Linked DNA regions of Homo sapiens. The protein of the gene in region 1 purifies or fractionates together with the protein of each later gene. This does not show direct contact. Each region holds a gene or a part of one and is shown in the gene's direction. Other genes may lie near its edges.

Region 1 (3,754 bases):
AAATAGATTTGTCTTTAGTTTTTTTAAATGATACTATCCTTAACCCCTCCCCTTTCGTCCCCAATAAAAGAATCACACTGGGGAAACATTGCTAGCAGGTGACTATTCCGTTTCTTTGACATAGCAGGAAAATCTTATTAGGTGATGTAAATGAACCTTGTCACTTGCAAATATAAACTGTCGCGCATCTTGGGTGAACAGCTAAGTGCAGAACTGTTTCAAAAACTTGAAGGTAAATGGATGTCTTATTTGCAGCTAAACCATCATACTCATGTCAAATCTATTCATTGGAATAGGATACTGAAGATACATAATACAATTTTTTTGCTGAAATTTAAAAGTTTCATAATCCACTTAAGAGGCATATTTCAGAATAAAATAATTCTCTGTTTTGGAATTAAAGCACAGGCTTGGAGCAGTCCAGTCCACAGAAGTATAATGCAATCTATCCATATAATTTTAAATTTTCTAATAGCCACATTTAAAAAAGTAAAATGAAATGAATAACATTAACTTCAAAATAATTTTTTACTCAAATATATAAAAATATTACATTTCGACTTATAAAAAATATAAAATTGATGGGCTATTTTTACTTTTTTTGTATTTGATCATTAAAATCTTTCATGTATGTTACATGTATGGCACACCTCAACCAGTATGTTAAATTTTGACTGGAAATACTTTCTTTTTATTTGTTTTTATTTTTTGTCTTAGTGTTCTTCAAAATGATTTTTATTTAGAACACAATTTATTATTGCAAAAGTAGATTCTATATCCAAGTTGTTCTAAATACTAAAAAAGTTTTCCAATAGCTTACTGAACATTAGTTTTTATATTTAAATAAAAAATGAGATTTAAAATTCATTTCTTCAATCACACTAGCTTCATTTCATATATTCAATACACGTAAGGCAGTGTAGAATTGGAGCTATGCGAGACCAAGCTGGGTTAGAATCCTGACTTGGCCTCTTTCCAGCTGCTTGTCCTTGGGAATTTACCTAGCCCTCTCCAAGCTTCAGTTCTAGCTTCGAATTGCAGGCGGGGAAACACCACACTGAATATGTTTTAACTCCTACCTGCAAAGCTAACAGCAGAAGACAAACACCCGCTATTTGTTTCTCCCTTCATGGAAGTGGTGGACTCACTGCATGATATAATAAAAATCAGAACCAATCAACGTAGGGATAGTTAAGTAAATTTCTTTATTCCATACTCTGAAGCCATAAAATACTAATAACTAATTAATCACTAATTTATTTAATCACCAATTAATATTGAAATCGGTTGTTATTAAGGAAGAAAACCGTAATATTAGGAATAGCACGACGGCTGCCCGTGTGCTCAGGAAAAACCTAGAAGGGTCTGCCACCCATCCATTAACAGCGGTTATAGGAAGCAACAGAATGGGGGCAGGGCCCAGCCGGCACACGCTTCAGTTTATATTTCTTGTCAGTTAATTTCCAAAAACGTTGTTCTAAAAAGGAGATATAATACTGTTTTAGTTTAAGGGGCAAATCTCAAATGTGCTGAAACGACTACGCTTTTCCCTCAGTCTGGAATGTGATTTTAAATCTAGCTTAACTATACTATAATAAAAGGCCACATGAAAATACTTTGTCAGAACGAAAAACACGCCGCCTTAAATCCGCTTTCGGTTGGCGGTTTCCCGCCAGCGGAACGGAAGCAAAACCGCCTTTGACGTCAAGGGAAGAGTCCCCTCCCAGTTACTACGGTGAAGTCTATGCGGCCATCTTTACTGTGGTCATCTCGTACCAAGCGTGTCGTAGTGGGGCTGTTGGGGCCCCACAGAAAGTCAGCGGAACGTGAAATGGGAAAGGAATCATGCGACTCTGTAATAAGAAGCTGACAGAACCATGAAGGATCAGGGACTGAAAGCATTAGATAAGTTGTTAGTGGGATGCAGGTTCCACAGGCAAGCGGAACGATTCAAGCGAATTAGTAAAGTTTCTGCCCGGATCTTGAAAGCCGCTTCCGTTGCTCAGCGGAAGTGTCGGTCGCAAGAGGACAGACGCCTCGAAGAATCCGCTATCGGCTGTCTGCACAACCGGAATCATGTCGAGTTTGGCGGTGAGAGACCCGGCAATGGATCGATCACTGCGTTCCGTGTTCGTGGGGAACATTCCATATGAGGCAACTGAGGAGCAGTTAAAGGACATTTTCTCGGAGGTTGGTTCTGTTGTCAGTTTCCGGCTGGTATACGATAGAGAGACGGGAAAACCCAAGGGCTATGGCTTCTGCGAATACCAAGACCAGGAGACCGCGCTTAGTGCCATGCGGAACCTCAATGGGCGGGAGTTCAGTGGGAGAGCGCTTCGGGTGGACAATGCTGCCAGTGAAAAGAATAAGGAGGAGTTAAAGAGCCTTGGGCCTGCAGCGCCCATTATTGACTCACCCTATGGGGATCCCATCGATCCAGAAGATGCCCCTGAATCGATTACCAGAGCAGTAGCCAGTCTCCCCCCGGAGCAGATGTTTGAGCTGATGAAGCAGATGAAGCTCTGTGTCCAAAACAGCCACCAGGAAGCTCGAAACATGTTACTTCAAAATCCACAACTGGCTTATGCACTGTTGCAGGCACAAGTAGTGATGAGAATCATGGATCCAGAGATTGCTCTGAAAATTCTGCATCGGAAGATACATGTCACACCACTGATCCCAGGCAAATCTCAGTCTGTGTCTGTCTCTGGCCCTGGCCCTGGCCCTGGCCCTGGGCTCTGCCCAGGACCTAATGTTCTGCTGAACCAGCAGAATCCTCCAGCTCCTCAGCCTCAGCATTTGGCTAGAAGACCTGTGAAGGACATTCCTCCTCTGATGCAGACTCCTATCCAGGGTGGAATTCCAGCTCCAGGGCCAATACCAGCTGCAGTTCCCGGAGCTGGTCCTGGTTCCTTAACTCCTGGAGGAGCAATGCAGCCCCAACTTGGAATGCCAGGGGTTGGCCCAGTGCCTTTAGAGCGGGGACAAGTGCAGATGTCAGATCCTAGAGCTCCTATACCTCGCGGACCCGTGACTCCTGGTGGTCTGCCTCCTCGAGGACTGTTAGGAGATGCTCCAAATGACCCACGTGGAGGGACTTTGCTTTCAGTCACTGGAGAAGTGGAGCCCAGAGGTTATCTGGGTCCACCCCATCAGGGTCCCCCCATGCATCATGCCTCTGGTCATGACACTCGTGGCCCTTCCTCACATGAGATGAGGGGAGGGCCATTAGGAGATCCCAGACTGCTAATTGGAGAGCCCAGAGGCCCCATGATAGATCAAAGGGGTCTACCTATGGATGGTAGAGGTGGTAGAGATTCTCGAGCGATGGAGACTCGTGCCATGGAAACTGAGGTCTTAGAGACACGTGTAATGGAGAGGAGAGGAATGGAGACCTGTGCGATGGAAACCAGAGGGATGGAAGCAAGGGGCATGGATGCAAGAGGATTGGAGATGAGGGGCCCTGTCCCCAGTTCAAGAGGCCCTATGACTGGTGGAATTCAGGGTCCTGGTCCCATTAATATAGGGGCAGGTGGCCCTCCTCAGGGACCCAGACAGGTCCCAGGCATTTCAGGGGTGGGGAATCCTGGAGCTGGTATGCAGGGTACAGGCATACAAGGAACAGGCATGCAGGGAGCAGGCATACAAGGAGGAGGGATGCAGGGGGCAGGCATACAAGGAGTCAGTATACAAGGAGGAGGTATACAAGGAGGAGGTATACAGGGGGCAAGCAAGCAAGGTGGAAGCCAGCCTA
Region 2 (3,754 bases), on another chromosome or scaffold:
GCCAATGGCCTCATCAATGAAATCAAGCCTCAGTCTGTGTGTGCACCCTCGGAGCAGCTCCTGCATCTCATCAAACTCGGTAGATTGTGAACACAAATCCATACGTCCCATGGCAAGGTTTTAGATATTTTCATATGGCAGAATTTTTCAAGATTATTCTTGTTTTGTTTCAGTACCTAGTATGAGCCGGGTACTTCAGTAAGTAAGTAGTTCAGCATGAGTTCAGGAAGTAGCTCAGTAAGTAAGGGGTAAAGCAAAGTTCAGATTATGAAGACCTTAAGCTGGTTCTGGCCTGAGGGTCTTTGTACACATTATCTGGAACACTCTGTCAGACATATTACTGACTTCCTTCAGATTTTACATCAAATGTCATCTGAGTTCTCTTAACTCCTCCTAAAATAATCCGACCCTTTCGTGCATTTTCCCGGTTACCCTGCCATAGCGATCCCATTTGTTTTATAACAGTTGTTTTGAAATTTCCTTTATCATTTGGGCTGTTTCCCATGGGATCCTTACCTCCACACTTCCCACCTACTGCTGCCCCCTTGTCAAAAAAGACTACAAGTTGAGTAAGGATCAGGACCTTGTATTATTCAGCAGTATATCCTGGAGCCTACCTGGCTAATAATAGAAAGCACTCAATAAAATATTGAATTACCAAACATGTTAATACCCTTTGACTTGGCAGTGCCAATTGTGAGCATTTCTCCTGGGGAAATAAAATGGACAAACTGCAATGCCAACAACATGGAATTAGCTGTAAATTTTTAAATATCCATAAAAGTGAATACTATAACATAATTATATAGATGAATATTTATTAGCCAAGATACACTTTTGTTCTGCTTGATTAAGTGAACAAGTGAGTCACAACATGTTACACAGCATTGCTCTATTACTGTTTTGAAAAATAAAACAGCCGTGCACGGGGAAGGATCCCTAAGAATTTATACCGATACGTTAACAGTTATTATCTCTGGGTGGTAAAATTCAAGGTCATTTTTATTTTCTTGTTCATCCATAGTGTTAATTTTTCCTCTACTAATCAACATATTATTTGATTTGTCAAGTTATTTATAAATTTTAAATGCATATTCTTGATAAACCAGTTTTTTTTAAATAACTTTATTTCAAAAACATTTCACTAGCATTCATGTTAACAATGTAGCTAACTTAACGAGCATCAGAGCTGCTAATATATCTCAACCCTAAAAATATTAAAATTTGGAATGGAAAAAAATGGATAATTTAACTACAGAACTGCTATTTTTTGAGTTTCTGTAGTTGTAGATAAAGTAGTAAACTCTGGAGGCAAGAACCTGGGGAAATGACTTTGTCTATTGGAGCCTAACCTTCCAGCAACCCATGTGGCCTCACAGCGTGGTGAACTTTGAATAGCATGGGCAAAATACACAGTTTTGTAAAGTGTTAGGTGTCACGCGGCTCCAAGAAATAGGAGGTTGACACTGGTGAGCATCTTTCCAGTTTGGATCTAGAATTTTATCTTGGCCTTTTTAAGAAAAAACACTTGTTTTGTTACGCCCTTAATTTTGATTTCTTTCAGGAATGGAAAACGATGACACCGCAGTTCAGTATGCAATTGGTCGTTCAGATACTGTTGCCCCTGGCACAGGGATTGACCTGGAATTTGATGCAGATGTTCAGACTATGTCCCCAGAGGCTTCTGAGTACGAAACATGCTATGTCACATCACATAAAGGACCATGCCGTGTAGCTACCTATAGTAGAGATGGACAGTTAATAGCTACTGGGTCTGCTGATGCTTCGATAAAGATACTTGACACAGAGAGGATGTTGGCCAAAAGTGCCATGCCAATAGAGGTAAAAATTCCAGTCACATACTTATTGATTGCCTTCTGTTTTTCATTTTTGGAAAAATGAGAGTATGGTTGAAACCAGCTTTAGTTTGCTACAGTTGTGGATTGTGCACTTGGATTCAGACACATTCTGTGCCTTGAGCATCTCTTCTTGTTGGTCTAGGTCATGATGAATGAGACCGCACAACAAAATATGGAAAACCACCCAGTGATTCGAACTCTTTATGACCATGTGGATGAAGTCACGTGCCTTGCTTTCCACCCAACAGAACAGATCCTGGCTTCTGGTTCAAGGGATTATACTCTTAAATTATTTGATTATTCCAAACCATCAGCAAAAAGAGCCTTCAAATACATTCAGGTAGGAATCTTTAGAAAGGAGCTTTACATTTTTTCTTAAATACAATGAGCTATTGTACAACTATTCTCTTTTTAAAAGTAGTCTCAGTGATCATCCTGTAAGATGCGTACAGACCAGGATGCATGCCCGATGGCACATGGATCAGATTTTGTTGGCACATAGATCACATGCTATCATGTACCTGCTCCCTCTGGCTGGTCAGAGTTTATAATCTGACCCTTTGGAGGGTTTGGAATCCATATCACTCTCTAAAGGTTGTAGATCCCTGTTATAAACAAAACACGACCAGCTTCACTAATATATAACTTAGAGGAATAAAAAAAAAGTTCATTTGAAAGTATTAAGTATTTCCTGGCAAGGTGACATTCGGTACCCTATTTTGAATATGCATTGCAGAAATACTAATGTTTTAGTTGTGGCTTCTGTCTGTTTGATAATTAAACTAGGCTGGTTGCAGTGGCTCATGTCTGTAATCCCAGCACTTTGAGAAGCCAAAGTGGGAGGATCACTTGAGCCCAGAAGTTTATGGTCAGCCTGAGCAATGTAGTGAGACCTCATCTCTACAAAAAATTCTTTTAATCAGCTGGGCATGGTGGCACGCGCCGATAGTCCCAGCTACTCAGGAGGCGGAGGCAAGGATGATCATTTGAGCCCAAGAGGTTGAGCCTGCAGTGAGCTGTGACCATGCCGCTGCACTCCAGCCTGGGCGACAGAGCAAGACCCTGTCTGAAAAAAATAATAATAAACTTAATTTTTCACTCAATATTTGCAGCCCTAGAGCAAATTAAAGAAGCTCTTAGGTACAAGTTGTACTTCAGTTAACCATGCATGAATGTGTCATTGTCTGATAATACTCCATCCTTAGTTTACTCAGTGTTCATTTGTAAATAATGAAGCTCACTTCTGTAGTTTTTGGAATAATATAACCAGTAAATATTTAGTTTTGGAAATCTATTCAAAAAATACTTTCATATGTTCCAGAAAGCACTTTTTTTCTTATGATACCTGTGTAATATCTAATAATTGTTTTATAGATTCTTTTCATCAGCCAGATATTTTCCACATTTCCTCTGGATTTAATTGTTCACCAGTTGGTCACTTGTATTAATGTCTCTGTCCCAACAGGAAGCTGAAATGTTACGTTCCATCTCTTTTCATCCTTCTGGAGACTTTATACTTGTCGGAACTCAGCATCCTACTCTTCGCCTTTATGATATCAACACCTTTCAATGTTTTGTCTCTTGCAATCCTCAAGATCAACACACCGATGCTATATGTTCCGTTAATTACAATTCTAGTGCCAATATGTACGTAACTGGAAGCAAGGACGGCTGCATCAAATTATGGGATGGTGTTTCAAATCGATGCATCACAACTTTTGAGAAAGCACATGACGGTGCTGAAGTTTGTTCTGCCATTTTTTCCAAAAATTCTAAATACATTCTCTCAAGTGGAAAAGACTCTGTAGCTAAACTTTGGGAAATATCAACGGGACGAACACTGGTCAGATACACGGGTATGTGAGACGTTGATGTTACTTAACATTTCTGTAGTG

Evidence for each region. Proteins that work in one complex are often made in the same cells at the same time.
Region 2: the proteins of CSTF2T (region 1) and CSTF1 purify together in Homo sapiens (affinity purification with mass spectrometry; 3 studies listed by BioGRID and IntAct, with this or other methods). This does not show direct contact.

The regions. Positions count from the first base shown.
Region 1 is NC_000010.11:51,697,872-51,701,625, reverse strand, and holds the start of CSTF2T (cleavage stimulation factor subunit 2 tau variant), read left to right. Parts: upstream 1-2,030; 5' UTR 2,031-2,076; coding exon 2,077-3,754. UniProt on the Homo sapiens protein: May play a significant role in AAUAAA-independent mRNA polyadenylation in germ cells. Directly involved in the binding to pre-mRNAs.
Region 2 is NC_000020.11:56,395,643-56,399,396, forward strand, and holds part of CSTF1 (cleavage stimulation factor subunit 1), read left to right. Parts: coding exon 1-79; intron 80-1,564; coding exon 1,565-1,842; intron 1,843-2,001; coding exon 2,002-2,199; intron 2,200-3,324; coding exon 3,325-3,715; intron 3,716-3,754. UniProt on the Homo sapiens protein: One of the multiple factors required for polyadenylation and 3'-end cleavage of mammalian pre-mRNAs. May be responsible for the interaction of CSTF with other factors to form a stable complex on the pre-mRNA.